Linked DNA regions of Homo sapiens. The protein of the gene in region 1 interacts with the protein of each later gene in a biochemical or structural test. Each region holds a gene or a part of one and is shown on either strand. Other genes may lie near its edges.

What was found.
Region 2: the proteins of NCKAP1 (region 1) and NYAP1 form a complex in vitro, tested with the Homo sapiens proteins (one study listed by BioGRID).

Annotation. Positions count from the first base shown.
Region 1 is NC_000002.12:182,906,424-182,918,371, forward strand, and holds the end of NCKAP1 (nck-associated protein 1), read right to left. Parts: 3' UTR 2,692-11,948; downstream 1-2,691. UniProt on the Homo sapiens protein: Part of the WAVE complex that regulates lamellipodia formation. The WAVE complex regulates actin filament reorganization via its interaction with the Arp2/3 complex. Actin remodeling activity is regulated by RAC1.
Region 2 is NC_000007.14:100,485,186-100,497,133, reverse strand, and holds the end of NYAP1 (neuronal tyrosine-phosphorylated phosphoinositide-3-kinase adapter 1), read right to left. Parts: intron 11,907-11,948; 5' UTR 11,823-11,906; coding exon 11,755-11,822; intron 10,314-11,754; coding exon 9,952-10,313; intron 8,983-9,951; coding exon 7,468-8,982; intron 6,618-7,467; coding exon 6,405-6,617; intron 6,149-6,404; coding exon 6,039-6,148; intron 3,489-6,038; coding exon 3,231-3,488; 3' UTR 2,332-3,230; downstream 1-2,331. UniProt on the Homo sapiens protein: Activates PI3K and concomitantly recruits the WAVE1 complex to the close vicinity of PI3K and regulates neuronal morphogenesis.

The DNA.
Region 1 (11,948 bases):
TGTCAAATGCGTCTTTTCTCTTCATTTCAATATCACAGTTGATTAACTGCTACCTACAGTGCAGACACAAGCTGTTTTTATGAAAAGGTGCTAAATATACAAAACAGGTTATTATTCAGCAGAGGCTATTTAGAAATATGTAAAAATTTAATTTACTTGTTTCTCCTACAAGAGGCTATTGCAAACACCATAAAATATATTCACTTACAGTCATAAAAGGGGGACTTATTGTACATTTCCTGTTTCCACTGAGGTCTGGTTATAGTTCCCACAGGTAGACAAAACACAAGAGAATTTTAACTTCCTTTAATAGTTGCTCAAACTGACTTTAGTTAATATAGAAGGAAATGGAAACAGGTTTTCAAAAATATGCTTGGACCTGAAAATTTGCTTTTTTCTTTTTTTCCTTTTCTTTTTGCTTGTAGCTATATTGTACCTTCTGGATGGTTGGGAATCTCTGGTTTGTATTTCTAAGTTGGTATTTTATCCTTTAGGTTTTTTTTTTTTTTTTTCAGTTGTTAATTGTGAGCTTTCTTTTCCTAAGGAAAAAAAAATCAGCTATCTTATTAAATTTTGCATAATATATTGAACTATAGCATCAAAGCTAGATTTCCTAAGCTACATTTTAGATTCTTTTCTCAGCAATGTACACTTACTTTTAAAAAAATAATAAAAAAAATAATAAAAATCCTTTTCCCAAGCACCCCCGTCTAAAGTTACAGCTGTATTTGGTTACTCGTTGGAGAGGAAGGCCGGTTGCCTTTCTTCTTGGCTTCCAAGCCTTGTTTCTGAATCCTTTCCACACACACAACTCTTATTTCAAAGAGAAACCCCACTGGGAGACTGGAAGACAGGACTGTGAGAGAAGGAAGTTATGTTAATTCCCCAACCCCAAAGACACCAGTGGGCACTTCAAATACTTAGGGAGAAAAAAAAAAGCTTCCTTCTAGATTGATTAAAAGTTTGGTGATCACATTTGCAAGTTTTCACAGCTCCACCATTACATCCCTCCTCCCCCATCGCACCAGTCACTTGCTTAGTCACAGATAGTGTCGCTGCTTAAGGAGCCAAGTAAGGCTGAATGTGACCCCTGTTTCCCCGTGGCAGCCTGGGCTCCAAGGTAATTGAAGACATGACGGCTGTTGATTTTGGCTGAGGCTCAGCAAGGACTTAATGTTTGGGGAAATCAATGGCACCACAGTAGGCCACAACCCAACCAAGTAGCTTCTCCAGCCTTGAGGAGTACTTTTGCCTCTCAAACTTGAAAGATTCCAAAAAAAAGGGAACAGGAAGTGCTAAGAAACAATTTTTAAAATATTTACACATCTGACAATAAAACAACAGACTGTTAACTGGAAGTTACTAATGGAAAAATCTTTCAAGAAGAGATGGTATATAGAGATTGAAAGAAATCTTTGAAGAGGAAATACAGTCTCCTGCAAGCATTCATTCAACAAATATTTTACATGTCATGCAATGCAATTATTCTTAATTTTTTCCCTTCCATTTGACAATCCGATAAACAATAGAAACTATTTCCCCAGGAAAAAGCACACATGTATATAAATATTAGACCTAGGCTGGCTGCAGTGGCTCATGTCTGCAATCCCAGCACTTTGGGAGGCCCAGGTGGGCAGATCACTTGCACCCAGGAGCACAAGGCAGGATGAGGCAACATGGTGAGACCCCATCTCTACAAATAAAAAATAAAAAAATAAAAATTAGTTGGTGGTGGCGCACGCCTATAGTAACACCTACTTGAGGGGCTGAGTGGGGAGGATCATTGAGCCCAAGAAGTCGAGGCTGCAGTGAGCCAAGACCATGACATGCACTCCAGCCTGGGGACAGAGAGACCCTTTCTCAGAAAAAAAAAAAAAAAAAAAAAAGAATAAAACCCACATGGGGAATTTTTTTTTTTTTTGAGACAGAGTCTCGCTCTGTTGCCCAGGCTGGAGTACAGTGGTGTGATCTTGGCTCGCTGCAAGCTCCACCTCCCAGTTTCATGCCATTCTCCTGCCTCAGCCTCCTGAGTAGCTGGGACTGCAGGTGCCCGCCACTACGCCCAGCTAATTTTTTGTATTTTTAGCAGAGACAGGGTTTCACCGTGTTAGCCAGCATGGTCTCAATCTCCTGACCTCGCAATCCGCCTGCCTTAGCCTCCCAAAATGCTGGGATTACAGGCGTGAGCCACTGCACCCGGCCAAAATGGGGAATTTTTTTAATCTTGAAAAACTGGATATAGTTCGTCAGCCTAACTATTTAAAAGTTCTGTATGGCTAAAAAAAAAATAAAGACAAATGATAAGTTTAGAAAACATTTGCCAAATATGTGATAGACAAAAACAATTTCATTAATATGTGTACATTTTGTTAATAAGTGACCTCTTACAAGTCAATAAACATACAAAAAAGATGTTCAACCTCACTCAGACAATATTTTTCATCTATCCAATCGACAGAGGTTAAAAAATTGGATAATATCCATTGCTGGACCATGAGGACACAGGGATCATATATCGCAGATGGGAGTGTCAACTGGTACAACTGTTATATGATAATGTACCACATTTCTGGGACTTTTTAAAGCATATATATTTATCCAAGTGCTCAAATATATATATTCAGATGTTCACTACTGTATTTTTTTGAAGAATGCAATCGGACTGTTCAATAGGACACATAACACATTTAGGCTATTTCAAGATAATGGTTTATTTTGACACCACCAAAAGGAATGTAGATCTCTCTGTTTTGATCTGGAAATAGGTTCAATACACATTATATCAAATTTACCGTTTCAACCATTTTTAAGCATACAGTTCTGTGGCATTAAGTACATTCATGTTGCTGTGCAACAACCACCATCATCCACTGTCAGAACTTTTTCGTCTTCCCCAACTGAAACTCTGTTCCCTTCATACACCTTCTCTTCATTTCCCTCTCCTTGCCAGCCCCTGCCAACCAACATTCTACTTTCTATCAATTTGACTATTTTAGGTACCTAATATAAGAGGAATTATACAATATCTGTTCTTTTGTGGCTGGCTTATTTCACTCAGCATAATTAATGTCTTCAAGGTTCATTCATATTGTCTCATGTGTCAAAATTTCTTTCCTTTTTAAGGCTGAATAATATGCCACCGTACATATATATCTCATTTGTTTTTTGATTCATTTGTTGATGGACGCTCGGATTTACTGCCTTTTCTTGTATGTTGTTGTTTTATTTGTTTAAGTAAACAATCACTTTTAAAGCCAAGGTTTCCTTGAGAAGATATTTAGGGCACAGGACACCAAAATACAAATAAGTCAACTAGAAATGAGAATTTTCTGTGCTCCATTTTGAATTTGATTTGTAGTTCTCAGAATAGAACAGGGAGCCCAACCTGAGCTGAGCTTCTTGGGTACTCCTAAGAAAAACACTTCCCTGGAATCCATTCTCAGCCACCGATTTAGATAAGGGCCAAATAGCCTCCTGATCCAAGGCCACAAATTCTGTCACATTTGGTGTTCAGACACGTATAACCAAGTCTGTTGGAATGGATGGGGTGGGAATTCAGTGAAGGCCAAAATACAAAAGAAAATGATAGGGTCGCAGACAGAAAGTTTTATTCTAAGGAGTTCAACCGCTGAGCCCTAGAGTTAAGGAGAAACAGTGGTTTCTGCAAAGCTGTGGTAGCTGGCTCTTTAACTGGTTCAGACTCTACTATCTTGGAGGACTGCAGGTGCCCTGGTAGCCAAAAGGGCTCTAAGTTCAAACTCAAGGAGCTGCCTCACTAAACTCTACATCATTTTGGAGTCCAAGTAAACCTGCTGTGGGACAACCCTTGCCACCCCACTCAAGCTACAGTTTTTGATTGAGTAGGAAAGCCAGCATGATTTGTGTTTCTGCATCCAGGCAAATGTACTAAAATTCTTTGAGAGATGAGAGGAAATATTTTTCAGAAGCTTGGAGGTCTGAGTACACATGTGGGGAAAACAGTGATTATAAATTGGGCATGGATGTTAATGTATACTCATATGTGCCCACAACAGTTGGAGCCTTGGGAACAAGGAAGTTACACTGCCTCGGCAAAGAAAGTGCTTTTCTCCACTGGAACTGCAAAGGAGAATCTCAGCTCTAGGAGAGCCTCAGACCATTCAGGATTCAGAACCTAGATAGATGATGCTGTGAGGGCTGCGGCTGTGCTCTGCACTTCTGTGTACGTCGAACAAGACAATAGATGTGAAAGAGCAACCCAGAAGTTAGTCCATGTTTGGTGGAAAGGGGTCCTCAGCACCCTCATAGGTCATGCATCCTCAAAACCTTTTCTTCTAGGAAATTCCTGGCAATGCAATCTAATTTCTTCACTCCTCATCTTGAGGGGTAAGTGGGCAAACATCAAGAACACTGGCTTATCAGCAACCTTCAGAGAAAGTTACTGAGAAGAAGGTGATTGCTAAGTATTTACAGATTAAAGACTCAACCTGTATTCATGCTCTGATGGTCCAACATTATAACTTGGAAATAAAAATAAAATCCTAAGCTCCCCCCCCACATTTGACTAAACAGACCCTCTCCTGGCCAAGAGGACTTCAGGGAAACCTTAAAAACTGAGTTCCCGGCCATGATGGGATGGGAGGTTGGGCACATCTCATTATACCCCCTCCTCACTAACTACCATTAGGTGTTCTTTCCTAAGAGTTAAACAGAAACCAGCCCTTTGGAAAGACCTGTTGCACCTCTGATTACAACCAACCTCATGACTACCCCTCCCTTTTTGCTCTTTGACAACTGACCAGCATTCCTTCCTATTAAGGGAGTCCACTGACCATGGAGTGGTTCTGGCCAGTCTAGGGAAGATGCAGTGAGGGTTTTTGTGTCCTCTGCTTCACCTTTTGATGTCAGAGGGCTGAAAATCCCACCCTTGGATCATGCTAACACCACTAAGCCTTACATAGTGGGGAATTCAAACACATGGGAAGGGGATTAATTCACAAAACAGCCTATACTATATGAATAAGACCAAAAAATGGCCATCAGTTCATGACTTTATTAACTTATATAGTTAATACATGTTTTATATACTGTTATAAACAGACTATGTGAAAAAATTTGAAATATAAACTCTTAAACCATGAAAACATAAGTCAAAATTCTGTTACTTCAAATGTTAAATATTTCAGTCATCTATGAATGGCCATCATAATGATTTGAAACTAGCAAAGTTATCAGTTAGGTTTGCTATATCCTTTTTTTTCTCCCAAGCTGTTTGAGCTTTTATGTTAACACCTATACTACTACAATGAGAAAACAGATTGCTGTTGATGGGAATTATTAAAAAAAAACAAAACAAACAGAACCGCTTTTGGAGAAACTTGCCCTTATATACTCTCTTATAATTGCCTCAACAAATTCAAGATGGTTATACTTTTTAAAAAAGTTTTTCATGATTTTATTAGAAAGCAGTAACTGCATTTCTGGTAGGCCTTTCTGATAGGTCACTTGAGAATGACTTTTGCATTATTCATGCATTTTCCACAATAGACACTTCATGTCTTTGAATTATTTTAGTTGGAGTAGGAAATGCAAACAAATCGGCAAATGGACTTAGCCCTTGAAAGCTTATGTCCAGCTGAGTAGTTATATCAATCACATCATGAAAAATTCCTTTTACCTAAAAAACTGCTGAAGTTCAGAGGTTGTAATTTTTTTTTCTCAGCATAGGACAGACTGAAAAAGAAAATGAAGACCATCTTAAAATATCTTTGGATATTGGCAAAAATTTAGGGAGCTTTTTGATATGAGAAAAATATGCTTTTGCCTTTAAGGCAACATGTTGCCCATTACGTATTAATAAACTGGATTCAACAAAGACATTCTTACCCATTGCTAAAAATCAACCAACTATAAACAGTTACCACAGTTCTGTTTTTGCCAGTGCCAAAAAGATTTCCAAATCTTTTCAGCTAAAAAGCCAGCAAAGATCAAAGAGTTTTCACATGAGCTCTCTATGTGGCAATGAGATACAAGTGCCATCTTTTAGCACATTATAATAATCCTGTTGTGCAGTACTCCTTTCCAATGACCTGTAAAAATTATATATTCAGAAAGGCATTTTTCTCAGCAAAAGGGAAAAAGTACGAATTAGGAAAGGTACATTTAACAAGCTCAATGATCTATTATAAGTTAATACACTTTTTCCCCATTCTGTGGAGTTCAGAATTATAAATGCTTGGCTAGTTAGCCATAATAAAAATGGAATTTGAATGTTAGAGTGCAACCTGACAAAATGATTTATTACTCCTTCGTCATTGAAACTAATACACGCTCTAACCTTTATAGCTTTTCACTTACTCTGTTAAGCATGCCTTGCACCAAATTAAAATATGTGCACTAGCACAATACTATAGACAGATCTCAAAACCAAAGAAAGATAGAGGAAGAAAGGAAGGAAGGAAGGAAGGAAGGAAGGAAGGAAGGAAAGAATTCAGCCAGATGAACTTTAGTTAAGTGCAATTTATGTTTTTGCTAATGGCATCATACTAATTTTCCAATGCATTCACCTATCCATTGGCCATGGTTACTATCATTGAAACTTTCACTTGAGCCTCTGTTCAGTTTTGACGTTACCATGTTGAATAGTTGTTATTTGTTTTACTGTCTGCCTCCTTCATCAGATGATGAGTAGTGACCCTAGTTTTACAGTCAAGATCAAACATGTAAAGTCTGTCTCCTCCACTATATTATAAGCTCTGTGACATCAAGGACCAAATCTGGTTCATGTACATGCCAAGCATTTAGGACACTATGTCCTGTGTATTTATTGATTCAACAAATATTTATTGAGGACTGTTGTGGCTTGAATGTGTCCCCGAAAAGTTCATGTGTTGGAAATTTGGTCCCCAGTGCAGCAGTGTTGAGAGGTGGGACTTCTGGGAGGTGATTGGTTCACAAGAGCTCTGCCCTCATGAGTGAATGAATTTATTTCTAGATTAATGGATTGATGGGCTATCAAGGGAGTGGGTTAGTTACCACAAAAGTGAGTCTGTTATAAAAGTCAGTTTGGCTCTCTCTGGTGAATCCCACCCCCACACCATGTGATGCTCTGTGTTACCTCAGGACTCTACAGAGACCCCACTAGCAAGAAGGCCCTCACTAGATGAGAACCCTTGACCTTGTACTTCCCAGCATCTAAAATGGTAAGCAATAAATTTCTTTACTTTATAAATTACCCAGTCTCGGGTATTCAGCTATAGCAACAAAAAATGAACGAAGATAAGGACCTTCTCTGCACAGGGCCCTTTTGATTGCAAGAAATATAATCTAGTCAAATTAATTAAAATGAAAAAAGAGTCTACTTCCTAATTCTCATCCTCTCATGCTTCTTTGCTTCTCTGTCTGCATCTGCCTCATTCTTTTTTCCTGATCAGCACTCTGATGCTCTCTGCCCCCACAGCCTGTGGAAATACAGGAAACTTCACAATGGTGCACAGTCCATACTCCATGAAACTTTCTGCTTAAGTAGCCCCCACAACCCTCAGCCTCTTGGTTCTAACTTAGTGAGAAAACTCTGATAAGAACCCACCATTTACAAGCTATTGGACTAACTCCCCTTGGATCAGTTTTCTTCCCTCATTTAATCAGTTGTAGCCAGGGAGAAGTCACATATTGGTATCAGAGTGTGCAGTCACAGAAGGAACTCCCTTTAGCAGTATCTCCCCTTAAATGAAGTTATAGTTAGGGCAGGTAATCGTAGACAAGACTAGTTAAACTGTGTTTTTAGTTAGCTTTGTTTTGTATTTTATCATTCTGTCCTCAGTATCTAGCACATAGTAGGTATTTTAAAAACTATATTCATTGAACTGATGTTAGGATATGACATAATATATTATTTCTAACTTTTATAGTTTATGTGAAATGGGGAAGGCAAGTGGAGGGAGCTGACGTTTTGGACTCTGGACAGATACAATACATACCTGCTGCCAGGATGAATAGATTAAAACAGGCAATTTCTATTTCTTTAACTTTCCTACTCAAGCATTGTTTTTAAATGAAAACTAACTCAGCATATCAAGCTTTAAAAAACCAATTAAAAAATTAAAAGAGGAAATGGAGATACTCTAGTATGCAATTTATATGAAACCCATTACCCACTATAACCATCTTTGAGGACACTCTGCATTTTAGAAGTGCCACAATAGCATATTCTCTCCTTTTCTGGTTCCCTTTAAAACTTAAGTCACTTAGAATGACATGAGGGGTTCTATTACTAATTTGAAGAGTAAAAAGAGTAAAAAGGAACAAATTCCCCTCTAATAAATTACCCCCACAGAAAATATGCTGTGAGGTGGGAAAGGCTGATGGCTAGACCGACACTGCAGAGTTCCATTGGTAGAGATGCGCTTTGTGTAATGTTGGGAGCAAGTAATGATTTTTCCTCTTTGTTCTTGTGGAGGGATGCTTTGGGTGCTCAGAGGAGCATTGACTACCTTTTCCATCCCTTCCCTTTAAAGAAATCAGATTTTGTAAACAGTGAAAAAACCAAGAGCAGATGTGATCATTTAAGCTGGGAATGCAGCCATACCGGGTGTCAGAGCATGTTGTGAGCACCTCTACCTGGGTGTCCCCCTAGGGCTACAGCTGCTCTCAAGGTCACTTCCTCTCACACAGACAGGCAGTGAAACTCATGCTGAGGACTCATCTTCTGTACACACTTTTAAGAACTTCTACTTCCAAAGATACAATGAAGTTAATAAATGAAGCAAAGCAGATTTCTAGACTAGGCTTCACATAGGGTGGCTTGCAGCATTTAGAAGCATTTCTCTAGACACCACACCTATTTTCCAACTGTAATATTCTGTATAGAATGCAAATGTTCAGACTTTGCTTTTCAAAAACGTTGTATGGTTCACAGCTGAAGAGAGAATAGTTGAGAGTTGAGTGATCTATCCTTCAAACTACAGGCATGATATTCCTTCACTTGCCAGCAACCCTTGGACCTCTGCAAGGATGTGACAGGAATAGCACAACTCACTAGAGCAGGTATCAGCTGCTCCCTCTAGTCACTTTCTGGGTGCTGTGACCTCCAGCAGCAGAGGCATTCATTCTCCAAGGGTGTTCTATGAGCCTTATTGGTCCTCCCTGTACGATCAGCTGCGAAAGAACTGCCAGTGCAATCTTGAGACTAGATGAGGAGTTACACTGACAGGATAAAATTTCAAGGCTTGCTAATCCTTGTGCATGATGACATGAGATCATCAGACCAGCTTGACTATAGGAGGCATTTCTGTAAAGGGGTAAGATTACAGTTAAGTGTCTCACAGCTCCTGTCTTTTCTATGAAGTACTGACTCTAGCTAGGGGTGAGTCACCAGAATAAAATGATCATTTATTTCAGGACAATGACCTGAGTAGTCACTTTGAAATTTTTCTGATGGCCTCTCTTCTTTGCTCTTGGCATTTCACTTAAATTTTCAGATTTAAAAATAATTTTTTTGCTACGTGGAATGCCTTTTTGATCTATTGCCAATGCTTTCACCTTTTGTCTATTTATACAAGGGGCTCAGATTCTGCATCTTCTCCCCCTGACATCCCAGACAAGTGATTTGTCTCATTGGGAGAAATCTTAGAAACCATGTCTTCGGGGCAGTTTCCTCTCCCTCCCCGTCTCCCTGCTCCTGCTCCTCCCTCTCCCCCTCCCCCACTCCAACTCTCCTTTTCCCTCTGCCATGTAAGAAGTACCTTGCTTCCCCTTCGCCTTCTGTCAAAAAAAAAAAAAAAAAAAAAACATGTCTCTGTGTCATCACTGAGCTGCTGCTATTACAGGTGTAGAAATCCCCAGCTGCCTGTATCTCTGATGCTTCTCCACAGGAACAAAAAGAAACAGAACCACTTGTTCCCAACATGAAGCTAAGGGCATCTGTACCAATGGAGGTCTGTAGCATCTGTCCAGCCACTGGCCTTTCCTAACTTAAAGTAAGATTCTGAGAGTTACACAGGGTAGGAAATTTGACTAAACAGACAGAAAGATGAAATAAACCTAGACCGTGACCTCAAGGCAGTCCCAGAATCAAAGGAGTCAGAGATAAATAATAATTACATTATGATTCAATATGTACTATAATAAAGGCATTTATAAGGTTTAGAAGAAACAGGATGGCATGGTAAGGAAAGGGCAAGTGATGTTTGAGCTTACTGTTTACATTATGTTCAGGAGTTTGCCAGCCAGAATAAGAGAACATTCCATTCCAGAGACAGGGAACAGCATGTGGAAAAGCACAGAAGCTTCCAAGAGCAATTGTCGCAATTGTTCTGGATACTGCAATAACATTTGAAAATACAAGCTTTACATCTTATACATTTTTGTGTATAGTATATAAAAATATAGTATAACATACATATAGTATAGAGCAGTCTTAAAATTAATTTTAGCATCGTTTTCTGTTAAAGTTACATGACAGGGAAAATAATCTTTCCCATTTAAGATAAAGACTCCGATCAGAGCTATAGAATAGACTAACACACAAATGTTACATTTGCATGAGTGGAAGTTCTGATATTATAATACTCATAAAAGCCATGAAAAAACTCTTTGAAGGCAATTTTATAAGTGAAACCAAATAGCCTAATAATACTGGAGAAACTACCACCATTTACACTGAATGCCTACTTTGTGGTAGCCTCTTCTTCCCCACCATCTCATCAATTTATACGCATGATCTTATTTTAATGCTTACAATAGCCCTTTAAAGTAGATATTATCCACATTCTACACTTAGGGAAACAAACTTGGAGAAGTTAAGTAATTTGTCCATAAGTGACAGAGCTGGGATTCAAACCCCAGATTTGTTTGAGGCTGTGGCATCATACTTCAAGTCATATCCACGTCCAAAATCCTACCAGGAACCAGTAGCTGTTTATCATTATGAAGACTATTACTGCATAAACATAAGATCAGCATATATGCGGCAACACAGCACAGTGGAAGGAACACTATATGAGCACATCGCCACATATGTTAATTTGGTTAAATTACCTAACTCTTGAATAGGTTGAACCAGATAATCTCTAAGGCTCTTCCAGCTACAAATGACTAAAATGCTCCATCATTACAATCATTGATACATAATAGGTTGCCCATTCAAGAATTAGCTATTATCTTGAAAATAAGTTCATCTTTCATAAAGGCAGAATTAATCCATCAATCACATTTAGAGAGCTCTTGGCACGAACTTTAATATTAGACCAAGTGTTGTATGTTCCAGTGTAGGATCTCACTTCAACAGCTGCGTTACCTTCAGAAAATAGTAAAAACCATTTTTGTTAACATAGAGAGTAAGTACTGTGTGAGCTTGAGATTTAAAACTAAAACAAATATTTTTAACATTCACAAATATGTGACATATTATCTACTATATATGTGGGATAAGACAGCCTAGGAAAGAAATCTGATTTACTAGAGATTAATCTGAGCAGGATCAGAGAGAAAAAGTGAAGAAGCAAAGAAGCAACTTAGACCCATGAAGGCCAGAAAGTGGGCATAGTGTCCCCAAGCCCACAGTCATTTACCCAGGAAATGTTTTTTAGTGCTTTGGGAAAGAACATGATACAGTAGAAAAAATATGGGCTGGAAATCCTAGAGCCTTAGGTTTTAATCTCAGCACTGCCACTCAAACTCAGTAATTTTATGACACTGGGGCAAGGAATTTAAAGTTTTATGAGCTGGTTTCCACATTCATTTACAAAAATAAAGAAAACAATCCCTATTGAGTAATTTGGTTGTGGAGTTTAAATGAAGTAATGGATATGAAAATGTCTAGTATCAAGAGTAGCATAATGTAAGCCCTCATTGTTATTTTTTTTGTCCCTCATTGTTAATGTAAAGCAGTTTCAAATGCTACTGGATAGAATTTGATCCAGCAATCCTACTACTGGGTATCTACCCAAAGGAAGTCAATATATCAAAAA
Region 2 (11,948 bases), on another chromosome or scaffold:
CTAATGTCCATAGTCTTGTCCTGTCTCCTGAGCTATCATCATTTTACTTTTAACTTGTTTCCTAAATTTCAAATACTCACATACCACTGTCATAATTTTTCATATTCTGTACATTGCCTGTACTATTATTTATTGGCTTAACATTTTTTCTTTAAACCAGCTCATTAAAAATAACTCTAGACTTATCTTGTGTAATCACATTCATGAAATAACAAGTAGCCTTATGTATTGGTTATAACTTTTCTAATATAAGTGAAAATAAATACAAAACTATTACAGTTTAAAAAAAAATGCTCTTCTTCATAAAGTGTAAAAACATCTCTTGTGGCATCTACCACATTTTTTTTTTTTTGAGACGGGGTCTCACTCTGTTGCCCAGGCTAGAATGCAGTGAAGCAACCATGGCTCACTGCAGCCTTGACCTCCTGAGCTCAAGCGATCCTCCCACCTCAACCTCCTGAGTAACTGGGATTACAAACGTGTGCCACCAAGCCCAACTATTTTTTTTTATTATTGTTTGTAGAGATGGGGGGTTCTATGTTGCCCAGGCTGGTCTTGAACTCCTGGCCTCAAGTGATCCTCCTGCCTCGGGCCTCCCGAAGTGCTGGGATTACAGGCGTGAGCCACCACGTCTGGCTATCCACCACATTTTCCGAAACTCTGTTCTATTCAGTAACAAACCATTCAACCTAAATATTCATCATTGCTTCAAATTCAATGTTCTTCCTCCAAAGTCACTCTCAAGCCCACCTGCCTCACTCTGTCAGTTCCCCGATCACCAGACCTCCAAACTTGGGCTTCTTGTATGACCAATTCTGCTCCTTCACTCCCATCCTAAGGTTTCCTTTCAGTGGCCTCTTGCAACTGTCCCTAGCCCTCCATCCTCCCAGGCATCCTCCTTATCCTCCTCCCTGGTGACAGATCACCTCCCAGCAGGATTCCCCTGGCTTCCCTAGTGAGGACCTGAGTCTTGCCTTGTGGCCCGCTTCACCATGGCTGGACCCCCTTCTTTTTTGAGATGGAGTTTCGCTCTTGTTGCCCAGGCTGGAGTGCAATGGCGTGATCTCGGCTCACTGCTGCAACCTCTGCCTCCCGGGTTCTGGCGATTCTCCTGCCTCAGCTTCCTGAGTAGCTGGGATTACAGGCATGCGCCACCATGCCCAGCTAATTTTTTTGTATTTTTTAGTAGAGACGGGGTTTCTCCATGTTGGTCAGGCTGGTCTCGAACTCCCAACCTCAGGTGATCTGTCCCATGGCTGGACCTCTTAATGCCATCACCATCATTTAAACATACTTCCTACCTCCCCCTGCCCCCATCTCCTACTGTTCCATAGACAATCAAAACCATGACCGTGACCTTGGGAGTTTGCCTCTTCCCCTCCCCAAACTTCACCTGTCCTTTTTTTTTTTTTTTTTTTTGAGACAGGATCGCATTCTGTTGCCCAAGCTGGAGTGCAGTGGCATGATCTCTGCTCACTGCAGCCTCTGCCTTCTAGGTTCCAGCCATCCTCCCACCTCAGCTTCCTGAGTATCTGGGACTAAAGGCGCATGCCTTCACACCTGGCTAATTTTTGTATTTTTTGTAGAGATGGGGTTTCTCTATGTTGCCCAGACTAGCTTACCTGTCCTTTTAGGGTAACTTTGCAGGAAGCCTTCTTAGATGATTCCAGCCCTGTACCCCCTCTTTTTTCTTTTCTTTCATTGTTGTTGTTGAGACAGAGTCTCGCTCTGTCGCCCAGGCTGAAGTGCAGTGGCATGATCTCAGCTCACTGCAACCTCCACTTCCTGAGTTCAAGTGATTCTCCTGCCTCAGCCTCCCAAGTAGCTGGGATATATCGCCACCACACCCGGCTAATTTTTGTATTTTTTTTTTTAGTAGAGATAAGGTTTTACCATGTTGGTCAGGCTGGTCTTGAACTCCTAACCTCAGGTGATCTGCCCACCTCGACCTCCCAAAGTGCTGGAATTACAGGTGTGAGCCACCACGCTTGGCCCTGTCCCCCCTCTCTTACTCCTTCAACAGTTTATTGTCATCTCAGTGGAGGTCATCTGAGTAGATCACAAGGTACTTGAAGGCAAGCTTCATGCCCAAATATTCCTTCTGCATCAGTGCAATGCCAAGAACACATTCTGTGCACAAAAAAAATGCTAATGGAGTCATGGCCCAGTGCATTCCCAAAGACTTACCTGGAACTCCACCTCGCCCTGTGACTTGGCCACAGCTACTCACCCCTCCCCGCACAACCTTCAACTCCCACCAACCAGGGGCAAGATGGGAAAAGGAGCAAGTGTAAGAATAGCAGAGCACGCTGTGAAATAGAAGAAGCCAGCTTTAGGATCATGAGTCTTTTAATATATTATTCTGAAAAGAAAGGAATTAAAAAAAAGTTCCTGACATCTCTTCTGTTTTGTTTTTTAATTTAAATAAATACCCTGCCCACCCCCTCCACCCGCTAAAATTTCCCTCCTCCTCCCCCATCATCCTGCCCATCCCTGGCACTAGACCCTCACCCCAGAACTAAATAAGATGCCTGATTCAGAGCAGGCCACACTGACTACCAAATTCTGGCAAATTGTAAATACTGTGAATGGTCTTGGGCCCTCTGCTTCCCTGGGCCCCTTCTTCTCTCGGTCCACTCCCCATGCAGACCCCTCCTTGGCTGTGGGGTGGCATGGACGGCGGGGCCTTTAGGCATTGGCATTGGGGAGAGTGCAAACTTGGCCCTGATTCTCCACTCCTAGCTCAGGAGTAGGTCAGAAAGGCCCAGAATCGCCCTCCAGACTGAAATAAATAACAAAATAAATACCCCCTCCCCAACTCCCGGCTCTCTAGAAAAGAGCTCCTCCATCTGGCACTCTAGTCCCTCTCTTTCAGCTCACCCACCCCCCTCTTCCTCCCATCCCTTCCTTCCTCCCTTCCCCATGCTGACCTCTGGCTTGGTTCAGGAGGAGGGGTGTACAACGCCCAGCGGGAAGAACAGCCAGAGCGACTCTCGCCCCAACCTCAAGCAAACCCTCCTCCTCCTCCGTTTCTCAGCAGCGCTGTTGGCATCCTAAGCCCAATGGGCCTGGCAGACTCTCCCCATCCCGGGGGGTAGGTTGGAGGGCAGGGGTTCTCCCTGGCACTCTCCCACGTAGTCTTTCAATGTCTCTCAAGGCGAGGCTCCCGGGAGAGCCAGGCGTGCCCGCCCCCTCCCCAGTCCAGGCGCCCCGGTACCCCCCCGCCCGCCTCAGATGGCGGTGTCCCAGAGGACCGTGTGCTGCCGGCGGCAGGGCGGGGTGCCGGACTTGCGGGGCTCGGGTCCCCGCCGCCAGCTGGGGAGGATGGGCATGCTCTCCTGCTTGCAGAGGCCTCGGTCCGGGCGGTGGCGCGCCTTGATCTCCTTGCACACGCAGCGCTTGCGCTCGATCACCTCCAGCAGCTTCCCGTCACGCTCGCGGGCCGGCTGGGGCGGCAGGGGCAGAGGCAGCGGCAGCGCGGGGTGGGGCTGTGCCGCGGGCGGGGGAGAAAGGAAAACGCGGGTAAGGTCGGGGACCTCAGCATGACCGGACGGGTCCGCACTGCCGAGACCCACGTCTCCCCTCAGAAGCAAGTCCTTGCTTGCCCCCCAACGGCCTCTGCTGGCTCCCTCTGGCTGTGGGGCCCATGGGGGCCAAAATCCAACTTGCGCAGCTTTGGCCCAGCCACTCCCTAGTCTTCCTAGACAGGTGCATTTTTTAAGTTGGTCCCCCTAGAAGGGATCTCCCCTTTTTTTTCTTTCTTTTGTCTTTTTGAGACAGGGTCTGGCTCTGTCGCCCAGGCCAGAGTGCAGTGGTGCAATCATAGCTCACTGCAGCCTCGACCTCCTGGGCTCAAGCAATCCTCCAGTGTCAGCCTCCCTCCCAAGTAGCTGGGACTACAGGCATTTACCACTACACCAGCTAATTGTTAAAAAATTAAATTAAAGTTTATTTTTGTATTTATGGGATCTTGCTTTGTTGCCAAGCCTGGTCTTGAACTCCTGGCCTCAAGGGATCCTCTCATCTTGGCCTCCCAAAGCACTGGGATCACAGGTATCAACTACCGTGTCCAGCTGGGGCAAGGGTAGACAAGGTCCCTCCCTTCCTCCTTTCCTCCCTTTCTTTCTTTCTCTTTTCTTTCTTGCTTTCTTTTCTTTCTTGCTTGCTTTCTTTCTCTCTTTCTCTCCTTCTCTCTTTCTTCCTTCTTTCTCTCACTCTCTCTCTTTTTCTTTCTTTTGACAGGTTCTCCCTCTGCCACCCAGGCTGGAGTGCAGTGGAACGACCATGGCTCACTGCAACCTCCACCTCCCAGGCTCAAGTGATTCTCCTGCCTCAGCCTTCAGAGTTGCTGGAACCACAAGCATGCACCAGCATGTCTGGATAATTTTTAAATTTTTTGTAAAGACAGGGTCTCCCTATGTCGCCCAGGCTGGTACAGAATTCCTAGGCTCAACCACTTCTCTTGGCTCGGCCTCCCAAAGTACTAGGATTATAGGCGTAAGCTACCATGCTTGACCTCTTTATTTTTATTTCTTTTGAGACACGGTCTTGCCCTTACACCCAGGATAGAGTGCTGTGGTGGGATCGTAGTTCATTGCAACCTCAGCCTCCTGGGTTCAAGCGATCCTCCCGTCTCTGCCTCCCACAGTTCTGGGATTGCAGGCACAAGACATAGTGCCCAGTGGGGAGGTCTTTTTCCTAAATCGCACAAAGGTGTGCTGTTGGCTAGTGGTGGCCCTGACTGATCTCCAAGCTGGGCCCTACCTTGCTGCCCATCTTAAGCAAACCCTCAAACCCTTCCCAGATCCTCTCCCAACCCCCTCACTCTCATTCCTGGGTTCCCGCTGTCTGCGCTGGCTCAGGCCCCAGTCTGCCTGGCCCCTTTTTTTTTTTTTGAGACAGAGTCTAACTCTGTCGCCCAGGCTGGAGTGCAGTGGCATGATCTTGGCTCACTGCAGCCTCCGTCTCCCGGGTTCAAGCAATTCTCCTGCCTCAGCCTCCCGAGTAGCTGGGATTACGGGTGCCTGCCCCAATGTCCAGCTAATTTCTGTGGGGTTTTTGTTTTTTGTTTTTTGGTTTTTTTTGAGACAGAGTCTCTCTCTGTTGCCCAGGCCACTGGAGTGCAGTGGTGCGATCTTGGCTTACTGCAACCTCCGTCTCCCGGGTTCAGGCGATTCTTATGCCTCTGCCTCCCGAGTAGCTGGGACTACAGGCGTGCGCTACCACGCCCGGCTAATTTTTGTATTTTTAGTACAGATGGGATTTCACTATGTTGGTCAGGCTAGTCTTGAACTCCTGACCTTGTGATCCACTCGCCTCAGCCTCCCAAACTGCTGGGATTACAGGCATGAGCCACCGCACCTGGCCCTAATTTTTGTATTTCTAGTAGAGACAGGGTTTCACCACATTGGCCAGGCTGGTCTCAAACTCCTGACCTCAAGTGATCTGCCCGCCTCGGCCTCCCAAAGTGCTGTGATTACAGGCGTAAGCCACCGCACCCTGCCTGGCCCCTTTCTTTCTTTTTTTTTTTTTCTTCTAAGACAGGGTCTCACTCTGTGGCTCAGACTGGAACGCAGTAGCGTGATCATGGCTCAATGCAACCTCCACCTCCCAGGGTAAAGCCATCTTCCTACCTCAACCTCCAGAGTAGCTGGGAATTCAGGCTTGCGACGGCACACCTGACTACATTTTGCATTTTTTATAGAGATGGGATCTCACTATGTGGTCCAGGCTGGTCTCGACCTCCTGGGCTCAAGCAATCTACCTGCCTTGGCTTCTGAAAGCATTGGGATTACAGGTGTGAGCCACTGCAACTAGCCTTCTTTTAAAAAAAAGAAAAAATAGAGACAGGGTCTCACTATGTTGCTCAAGCTAATGAACTTCTGGCCTCAAGTGACCCTCCCACCTTGGCCTCCCAAAGTGCTGGGATTACAGGCATGAGCCACTGTGCCCAGCCCTGGCCCCTTTATTGCTTTTCTTTGCATATTCAAGCCTTCTCCACCTGCTCCTTCACAAATAAAAGAAAAACCAAGCCTCACCTGGCTCAGGGCATCCCTGGGCTGGCTGCAGGGCCGGGGTGTGTGGAGCACGACCTGCCGGACTCCGGAGGTGGAGGCGGAGCGCCCCAGGCGGTAGCCTCCCGTGAAGTCTGAGGTGGAAGAAGGAGGAGTGAGGAGTGCAGGGGCCTCAGGTACCCCTCCCCTAGTTCCCAGTCCCCTGCCCTTGAATGGTCCAGGCTGCCCCTGCCTCATCAGAAGGGAAAAAGGGGTGGAGATGTGGTATGAGGATTTAGGGCCCTGGGCACAGACGTGAACAGGTGAGAGGAAGTCAGGACAGGTGCAGCTAGACCCCGGGAGATCCCCCAGCCAGCCCCGCTGTGCACAGGTGTGTGCAGGCCGCGTCACCTCCATTGCGGTGGCAGGCGGGGAAGGTCTGGCAGGGAATGGGCAGCGCGGTGCGGCTCCCTCCTCGGTCTCCATGGTGGATCCTGGCCAGCAGTCCCTCTGCCCCCTGGCTTCTCACTGGGATCCCCGATGTCCCAGGGCCCCTGTCCTCACGCTCCACCTTGCCTGGACCCTCGGCACTGCCATTCCAGGCCCGGGCACCGTCCTCGACCTCTGCTGGGATGACAAGGAGAGCTGTGTGCCTGCATGTTGGAGGCGTCATTCTGTCCCTCTGGCCACACATGCTGCAGTATGGGTGGACCAGGAGACACAATTGCCCCTTTTGCAAGTAACGGCTGGGATGGGGCTCCTTCACACTCCCCCAACATACATACAAACACACACACACCCCTTCCTTTCCACCCATTGGTACCATCTCTTGGGGCTGAGAATCATGTCTATGTGCTGCATCCAAACCCTTTTCCCTGGTCAGAGGGGCCTCCCCAACCGCAGCTTTAGCTTCCAAGCCCCTCCATCTCCAGATAGGGCGAGAATGACCATCCCCCTGGGATCAAGACCTGTAGGGGGAGAATCCCAATTCCTGAGCCCAGAAGGGGGAGCGCTGGGGGGAAGGGCTGCCTGTGAACTAAGCTCATCTCTGAGAGGAGGCCTGGCAGAGCATTGCGTTGCCAGGCAACGGTAGGGGCCTCCCTCTCCTCTCCCTCCTGTCTGGATGGGTTGCCATGGTAACAGCTGGGAGGCAGCTGTGTTTAGTTCCTGGTGCGCACACTCACAAGCACACACCCCTGCAGCCCCGGGAAGGGAGGGGCAGGGAGCAGAGCAGGACAGGGCCAGATTTGACCCCCTTCGCCTCCCAGACCTTCCTGCCCCTCCAGCGCACACTGGGGGACCCCGGTCTTTCTGTCTATCGCCCACCCCCACCTCTCTGGTCTCCTAGAAAACATCCCAGACTCAAGGCTGTGACTTCCAAATAACCCCTCCAACACCTCCCCCAAACCATCGCAGGCATCCCCAGCTGCCCCCCACCCCTGATGCCAGCCCCCACTCCCCACCCCTCACTCACTGTCCAACTCCTTTGCTTTTCTCCCTCCATAGAGGACCTTCCTCTGCAGGGCCCAGCCTGCCCCAAATGTCGCGGCGCCCACCTCCTCTTCTTCCTCCTCTGGTGTCCCTGCGCTGGCGATGACGTGGGCACAGGAGATGCTGGCAAAAGCACCCCCATCGGTCCCTTGCTCCTGCAGCTGGATCTTGACCATGGGGGATGGGGCCCCCACACCACAGCCCTTATTCAGCACCCCCCCAGCCTTGAGGCTCTCATAGGCAGGGGGTCTCTTGAGCCCAGCTGCTGTGGCTGGGTAGGTCCACAGCGGGGTCAGGGGGCCTACAGTTGGGTCCGGAAGGCTGTGGGGGGAGGCCAGGCAGCCGCGGTGGTGGAGGACCCCAGCTGCTGCGCCCATGGCCCCACCGTGGGGGCTGGTCTTCCCTGGCACAGGGGGCCTTGAGCTGGTACACAGCATCCCATGGAGGACCGAGATCTCCTTCTCCGTCTTTGGCTCCCCAGCACCCAGGGGTGGACCAGCTGGCAGGACAGAGTGCGTGGTCACCTTGACCGCCGAGTACACCATGGTGTAAGACACGGCCTTGTCCTTGGGGGGGCCGGGGAGCAAGGCGGCCGGGGCAGGGGGGGCTGCCGGCGCCCCCGCCGCCTTAGGGCAGATCATGCTGTGGGAGTTGGGGAGCTCCCGCTCCCCCCGGGGCTGGCCAGAGCCCTGGGGTGGCAACGGTGTCGAGTGGCTCCGGGCCCGGCCCGATGGTCCCAGCAGCAGCAGGTTGGCAGCAGGAGGTGGAGGCGGTGGGGGAGGCGTCTCCCGCTCCCGTGCAGGCACTTGGGGAGCTGGGGTGGAGCCGGCTGGCTCCTTGGAGTGGCAGAGGACAGGTAGCCTTGAGACCCCATCGCCAGGGGTTCGGGAAGCAGACTTGGCTTGGGGGAAGGCCAGGAGTGGAGGCCGGTGCTGAAGGAGGTTGGGGAAGGGCGGGGGGATTTCACAAGGAGTGGTCTTGGTGGGCGTCCCGTCCCTCCGGCTCGGGAGGGCTGAAGCTGGGCGGCGGTGGGCATGGGGCGGAAGGGCGTGAGGCTGTTGTGGCGGGGATGTTGCCGTCAATGGTGGAGGGCCATTGGCCCGGCCTTCCCCAGCCTCTTCCGGCAGCGGGTACTTCATCTCTTCATAGATGGCCTCACTCTCTTCAGAGTCCGAGTCGGCGCCCGCTGGAGGGGTCGGGCCCCCACCCCCAAGAGGGGGCCCAGCCAGGCCTCCTCCACTTCGTCCTCCTCCCCTAAAGACGTCCCCCACCATCTCAATGTACACAGGCTCTTCCTGGGCACCCACATCAGGGTCCCCAGCTACTCGGGACCCCCTAGTGAGGCGCTGAAGAGGCAGGTTCCCCCCTCGAGGAGAGGGGCCTGGGGGGCAGGACTCATCGAAGGAGACAGAGAGCTGGGTGTTAGGGCTTCGCCTGGGCTTCTGCGGAGGAACCTTCCGGCTGGACTCTCGGCCCTCTGGGGTTGGCTTCTGTGAGCCTGGACAGGACAAGAAAGAGAAAAATAAACCAGGCTTTTAATGAGGGGAGCAAGTGGGAGGAGCCCATTCTGATCCCTTGACCCTTCTGCAAGGACATATCTGCCTCTTCCTTTTCCCCACATTCCTCAACTTACAGCCCCAGGAGGTTTCTTCATTTCTTTTTTATTTTTTAATAGAGATGGGTCTTGCCATGTTGCCCAGACTGGTCCCAAATTCCTGGGCTCAAGGGATCCTCCTGCCTCGGCCTCCTAAAGTGCTAGGATTCCAGGCATCAGCCACCATGCCCAGCTGTAGGTTCCTTTTCTACTAGTCAGCCCTTGGTCTTTTTAAAACGTCAATTAATTGGCCAAGCACAGTGGCTCACGCCTGTAATCCCAGCACTCTGGGAGGCCGAGGTGGGTGGATCACCTGAGGCCAGCAAGCCTGGCCTTGTCAGCCTGGCCAACAAGACGAAACCCTGTCTCTACTAAAAATACAAAAAATTAGCCGGGCGTGGTGACGGACGCCTGTAATCCCAGCTACCTGGGAGGCTGAGGCAGGAGAACTGCTTGAACCTGGGAGGCGGAGGATGCAGTGAGCTGAGATCGCACCACTGCACTCCTGCCTGGGCAACAGAGCGAGACTCTGTCTCAAAAAAAAAAAAGTGCTGAGATTACGGGCGTGAGCCACGGGGCTTGTCCCACAGCCCTCAGTCTTTCTAACGTATTCTCCAGAATTCGCAGCTCCTACCTTCATTGTCCCTCTGAGGCCACCACCCCTTTCTCAAGAACTTTTCAGGGAGTGTCCCCTGCCCTTGAATGGTTCATCTCAGGCCCATCCAAAAGGACCCCCCCAATTCCTTTTGAGAATGGAATCTTCCACTTCCTTGGTTCTTCCCTGAATGAACCCTCCCGGCAAGCCTCCCCGGGCGTGGAATAGATCCTCCCAGCTCCCAGCTCCACCCCAGGGAGAGATAGGGGGTATCTCACCTGCTTTCTTGCTGGGGGGCGTCTCTGCCCCAGACCCAGGCCCCACCATGCTGAGCTTGGTGCTGGGGTGTCTCCGGGGCTTGGCAGGGGGTCTTCGGGTGCTGCTGTCCTCTGTGAGGCCCCCACTGGCCCCGCCAGGGCCACCCCCGACACTGTCCATGCTGCCCACCGAGTGGCAGGAGAGGGAGCGTGGGGCCATGGCGCTGCGGCAGGGGTGCGGGGTGTGCTCCTGGGAGGCGGGCATCGTCATGAAACCCATCCTGAGGGAGCGCCGCAGCGAGGCGATGTCCCGCACGCGGACCCCAGGCCCCTGGCCGGCCGCGGGCCCAGCCGAGCCAGCGGGGGCCACCTCCTTACTGGAGCTGGGGAGAGAAGGCCACGATGGAGTGGAGGAAGGGCCTCGGACCTGGGCATCCCCCTTCTCCACCCCAAGAGGTGTCAGCAACCCTGTGGCTTCCCAGGGAAGAGGACGGGAGCCTGGGTGGGGACAGGGTTGCCAGAAGGTCCAGGGCACCAATGAAGGGGCTTCAGGCAGAATCTTGGGCTTTAAAAACACAAGGCAGTTGGGGGCAGGGATGAGAAGAGGGGTGAGTATGCCTGCAGGGGAGCATCCCTGGGGCTGGCGGATCCCAGCCTGGGCACCTGTGTGGACAGCCTTGTGCAGAGGTAGAGATACAAACCCAGGTAACACAGATGGACACGCCTGCCCCCCACAGCTCCTTGGCCCCTCTCACTCTCACAGTGGCCCACACCTGGCCTCTGGTTACCCCTCCTGCCCAGCCACTGTGACCTCTGCCCCCACGGCACACCTCCTCTCCCAGATGCAGGATGTGCCCCTCCAGGACCAGAGCAGCCTCCCTCCCTGGCCCATCCTTCTTCCTCCCTCTCCCCTGGTGCTGTTCTCTCTCTGTCAGCCTCCCCGGCTCACCCCCATTCCATTCCACTGTCCCTGAGCTTCTGTCTGAGTGGAGGGTGGCAGAGGGTTGGGGGGGCGGCTGGCAGGGAAGAGAGGAGAGCTGTGTGGGGTGGGCACTCATTAAGGCCCTGTCTACTAGCCCTTCATTAGGGAGAGATCGCTGCAGCGATCACTCTGATTAATCTAATTAACAACAAGAATTAAACTCCACAGTTGCGAGGAAGGAAAAGGGAGGTGGCTGTGAGTCAGGCTCCAAGTGGCTGTGAAGTCAATGGGAGAGAAGAGGAGAAGGAGAGAAGGATGGGAGAGGCCAGGCCCCAGGTCCCTGGAAGGGCAAGCGGGGAGGCAGACAGGGATTGCAGGGGTCTGGAGGTCGTCCCCTGCCCTGGCTCTTTGGCAAGGCCCAGCCTGCATGTCTGCCCACCACACACACAACCCCATCACTTGACCACTCACCTCCCCCAGCAGGGAAAACTGGGAGGAGGCCAAGTGGATGTTCTCTGATGCCCCTGAAATGACCCCTTCCCTAGACCCTGGGAGAGAGGCGGGGCCTGCCCCTTCCAAGGTCAGGTGACAGGAGAGCCCGCAGCCAGCCCCAAATTTGCAGAAAGGAGAAGGGCTACAGGCCAGAGGTGAGTCAGGAAGGAGTGACTCGGGCCTCTGGGGATGGGGAACAACCAAAGGGGTGCTCCTAGGCTGTAAACCCCCCCACAGGAGAGCAGGAGTTGGGCCAGGACAGTGTGTGCAATCCTGGCCATTCCGTACTGACTCTGAGATCAGAGAGCTCACTCATGACAAGGCTGCCGGCCCCCGAGAAGGGCTGTGGCCCAGTGAGGGGGCAGGCAGAGGTGCGGAAGGGAAGGGAGCAGTCTGGGGTGCAGCCTTACCTCCTCTTGGCCTCCTCTTCCTTGTGCTGCCTCCACTCCAGCTTGGTTTTTCGGTAGAGGAGGTTCATCTCGTGGGGCAGGAGGTGGGGGCTGGGGGGCCCTGCTCAGTGCCACCAGGCCCGGGGGGCGGCCCTCCCTGGGTCCCGGATCCACTGGCGGGCGGGGTGGGTGAGAACGGAAAAAAAAGAAAGGTG